Linked DNA regions of Homo sapiens: region 2 is linked to region 1. Evidence: fine-mapped expression QTL. Tissue or cell type: whole blood. Region 1 holds a variant in brackets; the other region holds the start of a gene. All regions are shown on one strand. Distances are between the middles of the regions.

Region 1 (8,185 bases):
CGCTTCCCATTACTCCACATACTTTAGTGCTACATCACGAAAAGCCTATTTACCACAATTGTTTTCACCCAGTACATTATGTCTGGCTTTCAGTGGAATAGTACAAGTCATACTAAAAGTCAAAAATAAATAAACAAACTCCCAAATCACATACATGCCCACACATAGAGTATGAAGAGACAAGGCAAGCATCAGAACCAGACTCAGATGTAGTAGAGAGGTTAAATATCAGACCCAGAATTTAACCCTTTTCCCATTTAGAAAAAAAAAAAAAGGGCAGCTCGCTACCAGCACTCACTTAATTTTTACATAAACACACTCTTTGAAGCTGAAGCAAATCTGACTGATTTTCACTGTGAAAATAAAATATAAAAACTTTTCATGGAATTATTTCTAAACAGAATTAACATCAGAATCATCTGAATCATCAGAATCATCTATTTCAGAAAAATCAGATTCATCAAATGAATCTTCAGGCAACAACTACTTGAGAATGATGTTAACATCACAAGTAGGATTGCTGCTTTCTAGGATTTGACATTTTCAGCGATTGAGAATTACTATATTTTGTAAATGGAAATGCCACTACTAAAAACAATGCTATAAATGGAATGATGTCTTTTATTTCCAAAGTTGACATACTAGAGCAATGTGAAAATAATAATATTTCATGGCAAAGTCATCTCAGGGTAAACATTGCAGTCGCAAGCGCCACCAGCAAGTATTCTTGGGGCAAATGGAAAAAGGGTTAAAAGAACTATGATATATATTATGATAGCTTTAATGGAAAAAGTAAGCAAAATGCAAGAATAGATGGGTAATGTAAACAGAGAGATGAAAATTCTAAGAAAGAATTAAAAAGAAATACTAGAGATCAAAAACACTATAAAGAAATGAAGACTGCTTTTGATGGTCTCATTAGTAGTCTAGACATGGCTGAAGAAAGAATCTCTGAGCTTCAGGATATGTCAATAGAAACTTCACAAACTGAAAAGCAAAGAGAAGAGACTCAGAAAATGGAGCAGAATATCCAGAAACTGTGGGACAGTTACAAAAGATGTAACATATGAATAATGGGAACACCAGAAGAAGAGAGAAAGGAACAGAAGAATTATTGAAGCAATAAAGAATAAGAATTTCCCAAAATTAAGACAGACATGAAACTACGGATTCCAGAAGCTTGGAGAATATCAAGAATGAAAAATGCCAAAATATCTACTCCTAGGCATATTATATCCAAACTGCAGAAAATAAGTACAAAGAAAGTCTTGAAAGGAGCCAGGGGCAGAGCAAACCATCTCATCTATAGAGGAGTAATGATAAGAATTAAGTCCAACTTCTCCTGAGACACCAGGCAAGCAAGAAGAAAGTGGAGTGAAATATTTAAAGTGTTGGAAGAATAAAACTTATCAACCCAGAATTCTGTGAAATTATCCTCCAAAAGTGAAGGAGAAATAGACTTTCTCAGACAATAAAGAATCAAGGGAATTTGTCAGCAGTAGACCTACCTTGCAAGAAATGTTAAAGAAGTTATTCAGGGAGAAGGAAAGTGATATAGGTCAGGAACTTAGATCTATGTAACAGGAAGCATGTTAGAGAATGCATAAATAAAGGTAAAACTAAGATCTTTTGTTTTTCTTATTATTTTCTTTTTTTTTTTTTTTTTTGAGCGGAGTCTTGCTCTGTCACCCAGGCTGGAGTGCAGTGGCGTGATCTCGGCTCACTGAAAGCTCCACCTGCCGGGTTCACGCCATTCTCCTGCCTCAGCCTCCCAAGTAGCTGGGACTACAGGCACCTGCCACCACACCTGGCTAATTTTTTTGTATTTCTAGTAGAGATGGCATTTCACCATGTTAGCCAGGATGGTCTCGATCTCCTGACCTCATGATCCCCCCGCCTAGGCCTCCCAAAGTGCATTTTTCTTATTCTTAATGGATCTAACAGATAACAGTTTGTTCAAAATAAGAGCAACAATGTGTTTGCTGATTTTAGCTTGTAGATAAGTAAAATGAATAACAGCAATGATATAAGAGATAAGAGGGAAGGGTTGGGAATATGCTCTTAAAAGGTACTCGCGTTACCCGTGAAGCAGTATAGCGTTATCTAAAAATGGACATAGAGTAGTTGTAAATGTATATTGTAAGCTCTACAGCAACGGCTAAAATAGGTAAAAAGTGTAATTTATATGCAAAGAAAGGAGAGAAAATGGAATCATATAAAATAAAACTACAGAAGGCAGAAAAACAGTGGAAGGTGAAAATAGAAACAAAGAACAAAGGCAACAAATAGAAAACAATAACAAATACGGTAGATATAAATCCAACTATATCAATAGTTAAATGTCACTGATCTAAATACACCAATTAAAAAACAGAGACTGAGTGGATAAAAAACAGGACTGAACCATATCATCCCCAACCCCCTGGCTATGGCCTGTCAGAAACGGCTACACAGCAGGAGGTGAGCGGCGGGCAAATGAGCATTACTACCTGAGCTCCACCTCCTGTCATATCAATGGAGGCATCAGATTCTCATAGGAGTGAGAACCCTATTGTGAACTGCACATGCAGGTGATCTAGATTGCATGCTCCTTATGAGATTCTAATGCCTGATTATCTGAGGTGGAACAATTTCAGCCCAAAACTATCCCCCACCCCAAGTCCATGGAAAAATTGTGTTCCACAAAACTGGTCCCTGGTGCCAAAAAGGTTAAGGACCACTGATCTACAAGACATCCACTTTAAAAATAAAGACACATATAGAAGAAGAGTAATGAGATGGAGAAAGATACACAACACTAATAGTAATCAAAAGAAAGCTAGAGTAGATACATTAATTTCAGACAAAGTAGGTTTCAGAACAAGGAAAGTTACTAAGGATAAAAAGGTTTTAAATAATAATAAAGGGATCACTTTTCTAAGAAGACATAATAATTCTTAAAGAGTACACCTCTAACAACAGAGTGTCAAAATATATGAACAAAAAAATGATAAAGTTGCAAGGAGAAGTAGACAAATCAACTATTAAAGGTGAAGAATTCAACATCCCCCTATCAGTAACTACCAGATCCAGCAAGCAGAAAATCAGTAAGGATATAGTGAACAGCACCATTAGTCAGCAGGATACAATAAACTCTTTTTTTTTTTTTTTTGAGACAGAGTCTCACTCTTTGTCACCCAGGCTGAGTGCAGTGGTGCAGTCTTGGCTCACTACAACCTCCGCCTCCCAGGTTCAAGTGATTCTCGTGCCTCAGCCTCCTGAGTAGCTGGGATTGCAGGTGTGTGCCACCATGCCTGGCTAATTTTTGTATTTTTAGTAGAGACGGGGTTTCGCCATGTTGGCCGGGCTGGTCTCGAACTCCTGTCCTCAAGCGGTGTGCCTGCTTCGGCCTCCCAAAGTGCTGGGATTATAGGTATGAACCACTGCACCCAGCTCAATACACTTTTATAGAATATCTTATCTAACAACAGCAGAATATAATTCTTCTCAAGCTCACATAGAACATTCACCAAGATAAACCAGATTATGGGCTATAAAATATTAATACATCATAACAAATATAAAGAATAAAAATCATAAAATGTATTGCTCTCACACTACAATGAAATAAAAGTAGAATTTAATAACAGAAAATAGATGGAAAATCCTAAAATACTTAGAAATTAAACAACACAGTTTTAAATAACATGTGGGTCCAAGAAAAAAAATCTGAAGAGAAATTTTAATGTTTTTAATTAAATGAAAATGAAAATACAACTTAATTAAAACTTGTGTGCCAGGTGCAGTGGCTCACACCTGTAATCCCAGCACTTTGGGAGGCCGAGTTGGGCAGATCACCTGAGGCCAGGAGTTCGAGACCAACATGGCGAACATAGCGAAACCCCCTCTCTACTAAAAATACAAAAATTAGCCAGGCATGGTGGGGCGTACCTGCAATCCCAGTTACTTGGAAGGCTGAGGCAGGAGAATCTCTTGAACCTGGGAGGCGGAGATTATAGTGAACCAAGATCCAGCCACTGCACTCCAGCTAGGGCGAAAGAGCGAGACTTCATCAAAAAAAAAA[T/AT]AAAAACAAACAAACAAACAAACACAAACAAACAAAAACTTGTGGGAAGCAGCAAAAGCAATGTTTCGAAGGAAATTCATGGCATTTAATCCATATAATGGAAAGGGAGAAAAATTTTTAAAAATAATCAGTGCTTTTGCCTTAGAAAATTAGAAAAAGCAGAGCAGGTTAACTCCAAAGAAAGCTGAAGAAAAGTAGAAAATAAAAGCAGAAATCGATGAAATTAAAAAAATTCAAAACAGGAAGTCAAGTGAAAAATTAATGAAACCATAAACTCATTCTTTGAAAAGATCAATAAAATTGATAAAGCTCGAGCCAGGCTAACCAATTAAAAAAGAGAGCAGATACAAGCAACTCATACCACAAATGAAAGAGGGGTTATCACTACTGATCCCATGGATGTTAAAGGATATTAAAAGAATATTATAAACTATACTCACAAATTTGATGACCTAGTTGATGGACCAATTCCATCCTATTTGGCCAATTCCTTGAAAGGGATAATCTTCCTGCTATTGTTCTAATATGTCTCCTCCAAAATTCAGGTGCTGTCAATGTGATAGTATTAGGAGGTGGGCCCTTAAGAAATGATTAGGCCATGAGAGGTCACCTCTTGTGGATGGGATTAGGTGCCCTCATAGAAGGGCTTGGAGGAGGAAGTTTGTCTCTTTTTGCTCTTCTGCCTTCTGTCATGTAAGAACACAGTGTTCCTTCAGTCTGGAATATATGGTGTGCAAGGCATCATCTTGGAAGTAGAGAACAGCCCCCCCCAGACACCAAACCTGCTGGCACCTAAGTGCCACTAAGACACTTCCAAAACCCACAAAAAAAGAAATATGTTATCTAAGTAGATCTATATCAATTCAAGAAATTAAATCAATAATTAATAATTTTCAAGACATAAAGTACCAGACTTGGATGAGTTTACTGGTGAATTTTGTAAAATAGTTAGGTAAAAAATAATACTGATTCTCTACAATCTTTCCCAGAAGATAGAAATAGAGAGAATAGTTTCTAATTCATTCTATGAGACTAGCATTATCCAAATATCAAAACCAGATAATGACATTACAAGAAAAAATAAACTACAGACCAATATCTCTCATGAAATAGATGCAAAAATTCTCAATAAAATGTTAGAAAATCGAACCCAACAATGTATAAAAAGAATCGTATAACATAATCAAGTTGGATTTATTCCAGGTATATAAGTCTGGATCAATATTTAAAAATCAATTAGTGCAATCCATTACATCCACCAGCTAAAGAAGAGAAATCACATGATCATATCAATAGATGTAGAGAAAGTATTTGACAAAATCTGACACCCATTTATGATAAAAATTCTCAGCAAATTAGGGATAGTGAGGAACTTCTTAAACTTAATAAAGAATATTAGCAAAATAAAATAGAACCCACAGCTAGCATTATTCTTGACAAACTAGAAGCTTTCCTGCTAAAATCAGGAATGACAATGATGTCCCCTCTCATCACTCCTATGCAGCATAATACTGGAAGTCTTAGCTAATGCACTAAGACAAAAAAAAAGGATATTTGGTAAATAAAAGGTACACAGATTGGAAGAAGCAAGAAATAAAACGATTTTTGTTTGTAGATGACATGATTGTCTATGTATAAAATCCTATACAACTGACAAAAATCTCCTGAAACTAACATGTGATTGTAGCTAGCTTTCAGGATACAAGATTTATATACAAAGCCAATTGTTTTCCCATACATGAGCAATTACAATTGGAATATGAAATAAAAACTTTAATACCATTTACATTAGCTCAAAATATGAAATATTCAGGTATAAATCTAACAAAATGTGCACTGATCTTTATAAGAGAAACTACAAAACTGTGGTGAAAGGAATCAAAAAACTAAACAAATGGAGAGGTACTCCATGTTCATAGATAGGGAAGCTCAATACTGTCAAGATGTCCCTTCTTATCAATTTTATCTATAGATTCAATGCAATCCCAATCAAAATCTCAGCATTTACTTTGTGAATATCAACAAACTTATTGCCAAGTTTTACTGGAGAGACAATATACCTAGAATAGCAAACACAATATTAAAGAAAAAAAAATAGAGGACTAATACTATCCATCTTCACATAAAACTATAACAGTCAAGACAGTGTGGCATTGGTGAAAGATCAGTGGAACAGAATAGAAAGTTCAGAAATGGACCCACACAAATATAGACAACTGATATTTGACAAAAGAACAAGATAATTCAATGGGAAAAGGATATGGTTTTCAACAAATGGTCATAGAATAATTAGACATCCACATGCAAAAAATAAGAGGATTCTAGACATAGATCGTATACTTTTACAGAAAAAGAAACCCTCAGATGTATCACAGACCTAAATGTAAAATGCAAAACAATAACACTGACTATATGCAAATAAAAAATTACAACTATGAAGTGAGTTAAGTCAAGATTACACACTGCATTGTAGTGTTTAATAGCAAAGGATCTGTTGAAACATTAATTAATGGATATGGCATATACTATTAATGGAATTCTATTTGACTTTTAAAAATAATGAGGAACTGCTTCACTTGTGATTAGAAACAATCTAGGGGGTATATTAAGTGAAAAAAGCAAAGTCCGGAATAGTTGGTAAAGTAGGCTACTGCTTGTGTGAAAAAGTGAGAGGTGGAAGAGCATGTACAGACAGTCCCCAATTTACAATGGTTCAACTTAGTTTTGACTTTTGGGTGGTGTGAAAACAATATATGCGTTCAGTAGAAATTGTACTTGGAGTATCCATACAATCATTCTGCTTTTCGCTTTCCATACAATATTCAATCAATTGCAAGAGACAGTCAACACTGTATTGTGAAATAGGCTTTGTGTTAGACAACTTGGCCCAACTGCAGGCTAAGGGAAGTGTTCTGAGCATGTTTAAGGTAGGCTAGTCCAAGCTATGATTATCATTAGGTTAGGTGTATTAAGTGCATTTTTGACGTAGGAGATTTTCAACTTATGATGGGTTTATTGGGACATAACTCCATTGTAAGTCAAGGAGCATTTGTATATATTTGCATATCCACATATAAATGTATATGTGCACACAGATGTGCACACACTAGTGCTGGGTAGATGCATAATACATAACACAGCCTGCCTCTGGGGAGAAAAAGCACTGCAGCTGAGCACAGATGGAGCAGGAGATTCTTCTCCATTCACTGTTTTTTATTTTTAAGCTTTGAACCATGAGAATATATTATTCATTACAAAATAGAAATTAAGCTGCATAAAATTACATTATACATACCAGAGCAAAATGTAAAGTATTTGTGGGTGGTCCCCTATGTCAGATTAACCAGCACATGACTCTTTTTGACCCATGTTTTTCAGCCACGTGGAGCAGAGATCTCACCCACGTGGAGCAGAGATCTCACCCAGTGATTGATATCTGCTTGTGAAGGATGAGTCAGGCAGTCTTTAATTTGCTTGGCTGATCATTGTTTTGAATTATGTTGGACCTAGCTTCTCATTAACACCCTGACTGGAGCCACTGATATTTTTTCTCTTTCACACGACCATATATGTGTATTTTTAAAAAATTGAACTGTTTTGAAAGTTATTTTCTGAACCCCCCGCCTTTTAGCCAATACCTAACATCATCACTTCTTGGTTAAAACAATTATTTTGTAATGTCTGTCACTATTTATGGCTTAATGCAATTACAGTTCATATGTTTTCTCAAACAAGAGCTATCAAGATATCAAAAAAAGATATCAATGTTTAAGATAATTTGCAAAGGAAAATAAAATAATATTTATGGGCAACTATCAGTGAATCAGAAATCATGTTCAGGGATGGATGCTCTTTTAAATTTCTGAATTTGCTAGAATATTTCTTACTCCTAGTTTCTATGGGAAAATGCCTTTGTCTTTTTAATGATTGGCATGATGCTGTGTTCCCTTAATTTGTTTTATGAAACATCTTTTTTTGGACTCTGGGTTCAGTATGCAGCATTTCTTCAAAGAGGACCTACTCATTTTATTCCCTATCAAGGTCACCATTTCTTAGCTCATACCTGTCCAATGCTTGCAGGAAGTGAGCATTTATGTTTCTCAGGTGCGTCTCTTGTTGCCT
Region 2 (8,185 bases), 89 kb before region 1:
GTTAGACTTACTGCTTCCCGGTGGCTTTTCCCCAAGTCCTTCTCCATCACAAATAAGGCTGGGACATTATGAGCTATCTGGGCATAGTCCAGGGAACCCCAGATATGGAGGCTGTGCCCCAGGAAACTCAGGCCCCGGCCCCGAGCATCTGCCTCCGTGAACACCATCCTGAGCTTCCAGACTTGTGTGTGGGAAGGCAAGTGCGTCTGAGCCAGGAGGTGTTTGACCGCTTTGCCTGTCCATGAGTCTTTTTAAACCTTCTCCATTCTGCTGCTGCTTCATGACAGCATAGGATAAATGATTCTCAAGATTTCCACAGGGATGAATCCACAGGGATGTGGAAATAGGCTCTGTGAGGTGGCTAAAGGCACATTCAAATAAGAGGCATCCTGCCCACGAAGGCTACCGGAGATCCTTCCTATCCCTTCCCAAAGCGGCAGTCTCACCTGGTGACTCGGCATGCGTGCCACCTTGCACCATGGACATAGCACACATGGCCTCATGGCAGCATCTGCCTTCTGAATGTACACAGGAGGAGACCGAGGCTGGGGGAGGGGGGGTGTCACTTGTCCTTAGTCACAGAGCTGGGAAGGGGCTGGGCCGGTGTCCGTGCCATCTGATTCCAGGATGTCACATTAGGGATGAGCTCTTTGGGAGGCTGCCACCTTGCCACTGGTTCTTTGCCTAGGTAGTGACAAGAGATTCTCTGGCATGTTTTAGAGACAAACTGCCTCATGCTCCCATGCCAGCAGAATGTTAGCATGTCATTCTGGGGGCACTGAAATATCTGGAAAATTTTGAAGCCAGGAAAATGGAGCGGCATCTGCAAGGCCGAAGAGCACCATCCACTGCTTGAGGAGCGGACCGTCACCTCGCTGTGTGAGCTGACCCCAGTCCGGCCTGTGAGCAGTGAAGATCCACTCACTGGGCACCAATCTGCACTGGACAATCTCGTCACTGATTTAACCCAACTGGCCTATTGTCTCTTACAGACACAGCTTCAATGCCTCAAAAATAGGATTCAAAAAAGGGAAGGAGACTTTATGCCCAGTAGCTATAACAGTAACATCAACTGAAACATGTTATTAACTGAAACTAGATACGATTCCACTCAGTCTATTCTTTTTCTTTTTTCTCAAACATTATACATTTCCAAAAGCTTAAGGAAAATCTTAAGGCAATTAATTTGGCAGAAAACATATGGCAGAGGAATAATAGGAAATGCCTCCAAAACTGATAAGAAAGGAATTACAAAGCCAAATATGAAGAAACAGAAAGTTTCATAGAACCCACAGCACAGCACCCTGGTTCCAGCTAAGGTAAACAGACTGCATAAGGCTGGCGGCCTGGCTCTGGTAACACTTGGGAAACAGTACAAAGTCCTGGCAGTTAAAGGGTTCTACAGCAGGGCAACCTCAGATTTTTCAAGATTGTGGCATGCTCAAATTCTCCTTTTTTTGGTAATAAAAATATACCTACAGTATATAATAAAAATATACATACAGCACAGGCATTGAGGAAGATGAAAGAGATACCATGAAATCAAGTTAATGTCATAATTTCCAGAAAGAGGAAACCAGTTCCTGAATTTTGAGAAATAAGATCCTTCGGCCACTATGTGAAGTTTCTTCTATAGGAAACTGTAGTCTCTACCCTTTGTATATGGTAGAAAATCAGAGACTCATGCATTTGAATAAAAATCACAATGATAAAGGGAGAAATGGCACTTTCAAAGATGAAAACTGGTTGAGAAATCATTCTCTCTAAATCTTAGGGGGAGGCTCTTAAGGGCTAGCTTCAGTTTGTATCTCTGGTGTTAGGTGATGGAAGTGATTTCAGAGGCCCAAAGTGAGTGCTTACTGGTTTGCTAATGAAAAAAGCCTGACGTGCGGTTCTTCTTCTATGGCAACAAAGTTATTCAACCTAGCATTAAGGTCTGCATCCATGAAATAATACTTTACAGATATGAACACTTCCACAACTCCTCAAGCGCACACACACACACACACACACATGCCCCGCACCATCACCACCTCCTCAACCAACACCAGCCCTGGGCATGGCCAGCTATCCTTGTTAGTCATGTATCTGCAGAGCATAATCCTTCCCTTGTACTTTCTAGGAATTATATTTTTCTTAACTATGCCTGCAAGATTTTCATCTATGAATAAAAAACATTGAAAAGATAAATTATGAATATGTGGTTATATACAAAGTCTGTGACTTCTAATGTCCAGATTTTAGAATGATGCCTAATTCTGGAGGTCTCAGAGGTCCAAGTGGGAGTGGGTACCATGAATGGGGGGGCCTCCATTTAAAAGTAACCTTCTAAAGAGCTCTCTGTTCCTGTAGCTCCCCTTTCCTTATTGGAAGGGTCAAAACGAAGTGTGTTCCCTTAAAAATCCAACAAGAAGTTCCTCTCTTATATCCAAATATAAAAACACCACAAAGAAATATACCATTGGGAGTGTCCAAAGCCAGAAAGTCAGAGGAAGAGAGAGAGAGAGAGAGAGAGAGAGACTGACTATTGGGAGACTCAAAAAGCCCAAAGCCCCTTCTCTAGCTGTTATCTCAGTTACGAACACAACGTACTGATTTTCCGTGGGAACCTCATTATTGCACTGTGGGGACTTCGTCTTCCAGCACCGATTCTGACGGCCCTAATTGCCTTGTTTGAGAAATGTTAGGAAAAAACTAATTTTCCGGCGAATATTGTTTAAAAGAATGATTTTCCCAGGCTAACGACCACAACCCTCTCCCACGTCCAGCATCCCCAGGCCCTGGCACTGTGGAAGCCTAACTTGTTAATTGTCCAAGGAAAACGACTGATGGAACTTCTCCACGAACAGCCTCTCCACTTTCATCCAGGTATTCAGCTCCAGCCCGTTGTAAACGCTCCGGGTGCGGTGGAAAAGGCCTCCTCCCTGTTCCTGCAGCGGCTCTGGGGGAGGGGTGCTGATGTGGAGCGCTCCGGCCGCCGTGGCGCGCCCAAGTCCCCGTCGCGCCCGGGATCGGTGGGGATTTTGTTGGAAAGGTGGGTCCTTCGGCCCCCAGCCCCCCACCCTGGTTCCGCGCCCCGCCCGGGCCCGCCTCTCACCTCCGTCGGCTGAGGGCGCTGGGGCCACCGGCATCCTAGCGGGTGGCGCGCGGCGGTGCCGGGGCGCCCGGTCCTGCGCTCGAATGCCAGATGGGCTGGGAGGCCCGGCAGTCTCAGCGCTCGCGACGTCGTTCCCGGGCCTGGGGTCCTGCTCGGTCGCGTCCTGCAGCCGCCTTCTGGTCCCTGAGTCCCTGTTGCCCGTCCCCGGAACCGGCTTCCTCGGCCTCTGCCCGAGCGAGTCAGAGACTAAACTTTTCCAGCGGCCCGCCGGGGCGGGACCCGCGCTCCGCCCCTCCCCTCGCCGCCCCCGACTCCCGCCCCTCTCCCCGCCCCCCTCTCCCCGTCCCCCGCCCGCGAACCCGGCACTCCTCCAGCTCCCCACCTCCCGCTCAAGCCGCCTGGTCTCCGTGCGCCCCGCCCGCCCCTAGCCTGGACCCCTTCTCCCCGACCCTACCAATCCCCTAGGGTCCGGCTCGCCCTTCGGCCCCTGTTCCCAGGCCGGCCTCCAGACCTTGTCCTCATCGGGCGAGCTCCAGGTGCAGAAACCGGGCGCCCAGAGACCCAGCGGGAACAGGCTTGGAACCAGGTCCGAGGTCTGGGCTTGGGCGGGCGCCTGTCGCCCTGACAGCGAGGGTTTGTTTGGGCCGATTCTTAATAGGAGGATTAATACTATCATTATCGTTGTCCAGATCCTGACCATTTCTTTTGTAACTGGCCGAGCACCGGCTTGGGCTTGCAGGTGGGCGCCTGGCGCCGGACAGCGTTTTTGTTTGGGCTTCTTCCTTTTCCGCGCGGGTCCCCTCCGGCGCCTGCCTGGTCCCTCTCCGCGCTCTACCCCCAGGCACGCAGAGACTTGGGCTCCAGGCGGGGGCAGCACTCTCCCCCAGCCTCTGCTGGTGCACCAGAGCCCACTCCGGCACAGAGCAGCGCCCCTCCTAGACCGGCAGCCAGCAGATCTCAGCCGACCCCCATGCGACCCCCTTCCTCACGCGGATTTGCCCCTTTTGTGTGGCAAAAATAATAATAATAATAATAAATCCATATGAAGGCTTCAAACAGAATTCCGAGAGAAGGAACTGCCAAATTTTCAATCAATGCCAAAGGCCATGATTGAGCGAACACAGAAACAACTGTAGAAGCTTGGGGAGAAAGGAGAAAATTAAAGAAAAAGGAGGAGGAGGAAAAGGAGAGAGGAGAGAAGCGGGAGGAAGAAGACGAAAAAGCAAGGAGAGGCCTGTTATCCGACCGTGCATTCCTGGGCCGGCAGGATTGGGCCGCAGGGGCCGCTGCAGAGAGTTGAGTTTGTGCAAAGGCCGCTCGTTACTTTCTGTCTTTTGCCCTCTTGCCTCCAGAGGATCAGCCCAGCGCATCCTTCTCTTGGAGCAGGGTGCATACGCTTATTTGGGGTGCAGTTTGAGCGGTGAAGGGCACCAAGAGTGGAAGTCGGCGGCACTCCTGTTCCCTGCAGAGAAACGCAAGCCCTCAGCAATTGAGCTGAAGGAGGCAAGTGACTCTGCCTGCTGAGGCTGCCAGCCCTAGAGGCTCTGGCCCCCGGGAGCTGGGGTACTTCCCAGCGTTTTCGCCTAAGCCACTTCGCCTGTGCTACTGTGGAGTCTTCCGGCACTGTAGCCTTCCAACTTGTTCAAAGTGCCTGGTGCACGGCTCTGAGAAGCCACTTCTGTCCCAAGTTTCATGTGGGCCTGAATGTGCTTCCCTTTGTTGGACTCCTACAGCATCAAGTCAAGAAAAGAAGGAAACATGCTCCTTTGGCATTGGTCACAACCAGGATAACAATACAGCATACTGTGGCCACTGTGTCTATATTACCAAAGTGGTCAGTAGGTTCATCACACCTCTGTTCAATTAGTTGCTTCCCGTGATGAAAAATTTACTGCTAGGATACTGGCTGAGGGTTGTTTTAAGGGGCACCCAAGTCTCCGTTCCTAGAGAAAGTCAGTTACCCTGATATAACAGAGCAACCTTGAGGCGTGGTGATGCCTCCAAAACTAGTCTGCGGAATCGGAGCCCAGAAGCCCTGAGGAGTAATGTGGCTCTCATGCTTTATGGCAGGTTTCCCTAAGAGAGACCCAGGATCTGACCCATGGCATCACTGAAATTCCTCTTTCAGTGAGGCTCCGTTTGCCTAAAGATCCCTGTCCTCAGTGGGTCTCCCCACACACGGGCCTCTCACTCACCCACTGCCCCACCCCCATCTGCTGCCCTCTTCCTGGGCCTTAAAGCTCAGACACTAGACTCTGACAAGGAGCCCTCCATGCCCCGGTAGAGACCATCTTCTCTCACCACTCCTTTTGAGAGAAACAGCCCTCCCTACAATTCTGTTGAATAAGTCTCCTCCTCTGCATCCTGTTTCACAAGTGAAAGCAGTTTAACAGAAGAATGCCAGCTCATAAACGTAGAAATGCGAGAATGAGGAAATCCCCATTCTGTAACCCTTAATGAAATAATTAAATCAGGCAGTGTGCACTAGTGGGTGTCAAACCCTTAGGTGAAAGTGTGCAGGCGAACGGGTGCTAATTGGAAAAAAAAAAGAAAAAGGTTTTCCATTTTCCATTTTTTTATGGAGACATCTGGCTGTACCTTACAGGAAGATCAAACTCAGTGTCACTAATACTGGCTCAACCTGGCATTATGTGATGCAAAAGAAACACACAACATCATTGTTGCTGTGTGCTTGCCAAAGATGCTTCAATTGAATCAATTGCAAAGCCTCTAGACTTTACTGCAAGTTTACAGGAAATGGAAGAGTTTGAGCCATGAGTTAAATGACACCATGGGAAAAACTGGACTACCAGAGTGTGGGCATTCTGCAGTCCTGAGCTCTTCCAAAAAAAATCAATGTCAAGAAAAAGGGGTGAAGGATTCTTCTGGTATAAGAACAGCTGAAAAGAAGAAGTATAACAATAAGTACAAATCCGGATTGACTCCCAGCTGGACAAATCAGCACACACACACGCACACAAAAACATTTTGGAGGAAATTACAAATTGGAGGGGATATTGACTGATAGTATAGAATTATTGTTAATGTTTTTAGGTGTGATAATGGCATAATGTTTGTTTAGGAGAATGGCTTTAATTTTAGGAGGTGCTGCTGAAGTATTAAAGGGTAAAATGTCTTCATGTCTAAAACTTATTTTAAATTGTTCAGCACAGTACGTGCACATAAGCTGATATGACAAAAGGTTGGTGATTATTGGTTCTACGTGGTGGATTTAGGGAAGGGGTTGTACAATCTGTTCTCCTTCTTTGTATCTTTGAACTTTTTCCATAATAAAAAGTTGGAGAAAAATAAAATGGCAGGTACTAAACAACTAAAAAATTTCTCTACCTTTGCGCTTAGACTTTAAATCAAATCTAGGCTTATGGGAATAAAATTGAAAGATACTATGAGTTATATCTGTATACTTTTGAAAATCATGTGGCCCCAAACTTAAATATGATTTGAATAAATGTATTATATATCACAATTATGTAATATAACCTTACATGCTTTTTTAATTAAAAAAATGAAATATATTCACTTTCCCAACAATTTAGTGTCCACAGCCTGGTGAGCAGGTACAGTGTGGTTAAAGGACATGCAGTTTTAAGATTCAAACTCAAAGTGAGCCCTTTCTCCAGCAGAACGAGTGCACCGCAGGAGAGCAGAATTGTCTCAGAAGAGCTGAGTAAATGCACCTCCTTTCTCGGTCCCCTCTGCCCTCCCAGCATCTGCTTCCAGGATCCCAGGGTGCCTCCCCAAGTTTCTGGGTCTGAGTTAATCTGCACTATCTCTACTCTTAGCTCTGTTTAGCGTAAAGGCTGCAACAGACAGTCATTATCTGAGTAAATGTGCATGCATGATATTTTTTTGTTTGTCTGAGGCCTCTTCTCAGGAAAATGTGTGTTGGTCACAGTTTGCACACATGAGCTTGACACTTCAAGTCCTGAAGGTTTCCAGAGGAGGACTGCCCCCTGCAAGGTGGGGTCTAACAGATAGTTATGATGGTTAATTGTATGTGTGAACTTGACTGGGGCATGGGGTGCCCAGATATGTGGTCAAACATTATTCTGAATGTGTCTGTGAGGGGGTTTCTGGATGAGATTGACAAGTGAGTCAGTAGACTGAGGAGAGCAGATGGCCCTTCCTAGTGTGGGTGAGCCTCACCCAATTAGTTGAGGGCCTGAGTAGACTGTTATTGAAGACAAAAAGCCAACACTCTCCCTAGTTAGAGAGAAGTCTCTAACTAGGAGAATCCTCTTAGGACTGGAACTGGGACCTTGGACCTATAGACATTGGATGTGTCAGCTTCCATAATTGCATGGGCCAATTCCTTATAATAAAGCCTTTGTGTATGCTATAGGTATACCTCCTGTGGATTCCGTTTCTCTGGAGAGCCCTGACTGATGCAGTGGCCCCAGGGAAAGGGCAGAACCTCACAGATATGGCCACTGTGGCAGAAGGGAGCCCGGAGCTACAGTGGGGATAAGCGGCTTGTGGTCAGTCCATCTGCACCTTGCCAGATATCTCAGAGCCATTTCTTCTCTGTCAGCTTGCTCTACACAGAACTTGGGGGAAATCACTTTAAAATATTGACCCCGATGTGGATTTGTAGAATGAAACTTGGCTTTTTGTATAATAACTCTGTCTTGACCCAAATGAAGCCTTTGACTCACTGCCAGAGCTCTTTAGGGAGGCGTGTTCATTTGGTGACAGAGATGTCTTCCAATGCTGAATCTCAGCACTTCAATTGTGGCTCCACAGTGGTTACATCACTGTGTCCCATCATTAAGCCCTTAATGTGTTCCCACTTCCAACCTCATGGTCAGCCAGAAATCATCAGAAGCTTCAGGAATTGTTCCTTTTTTTTTTTTTTAAGACGGAGGCTTGCTCTGTTGCCCAGGCTGGAGTGCAATGGTGTAATCTCAGCTCACTGCAACCTCCGCCTCCTGGGTTCAAGCAATTCTCCTGCCTCAGCCTCCTGAGTAGCTGGGATTACAGGCGCCCACCACTGTGCCTGGCTAATTTTTGTATTTTTTAATAGAGACGGGGTTTCACCATGTTGATCAGGCTAGTCTTGAACTCCTG

Evidence for each region. PIP is the estimated chance that this variant, and not a neighbour inherited with it, causes the effect.
Region 2: S1PR3 starts here. The variant in region 1 is fine-mapped to the expression of S1PR3 in whole blood (INTERVAL, PIP 0.98).

What each region holds. Positions count from the first base shown.
Region 1 is chr9:88,897,541-88,905,725 of GRCh38, reverse strand. All of the region lies in intron 3 of LOC124902205 (a long non-coding RNA gene), which reads right to left. Among named protein-coding and RNA genes, the nearest start is that of S1PR3, 90 kb to the left of the region's middle. The variant T/AT (reference allele first, on the strand shown) is at 4,064.
Region 2 is chr9:88,986,608-88,994,792 of GRCh38, reverse strand. S1PR3 (sphingosine-1-phosphate receptor 3) reads right to left here and starts at 3,325. Exons shown (of 2, transcript NM_005226.4): 1 at 3,098-3,325. RefSeq lists a silencer at 3,485-3,779.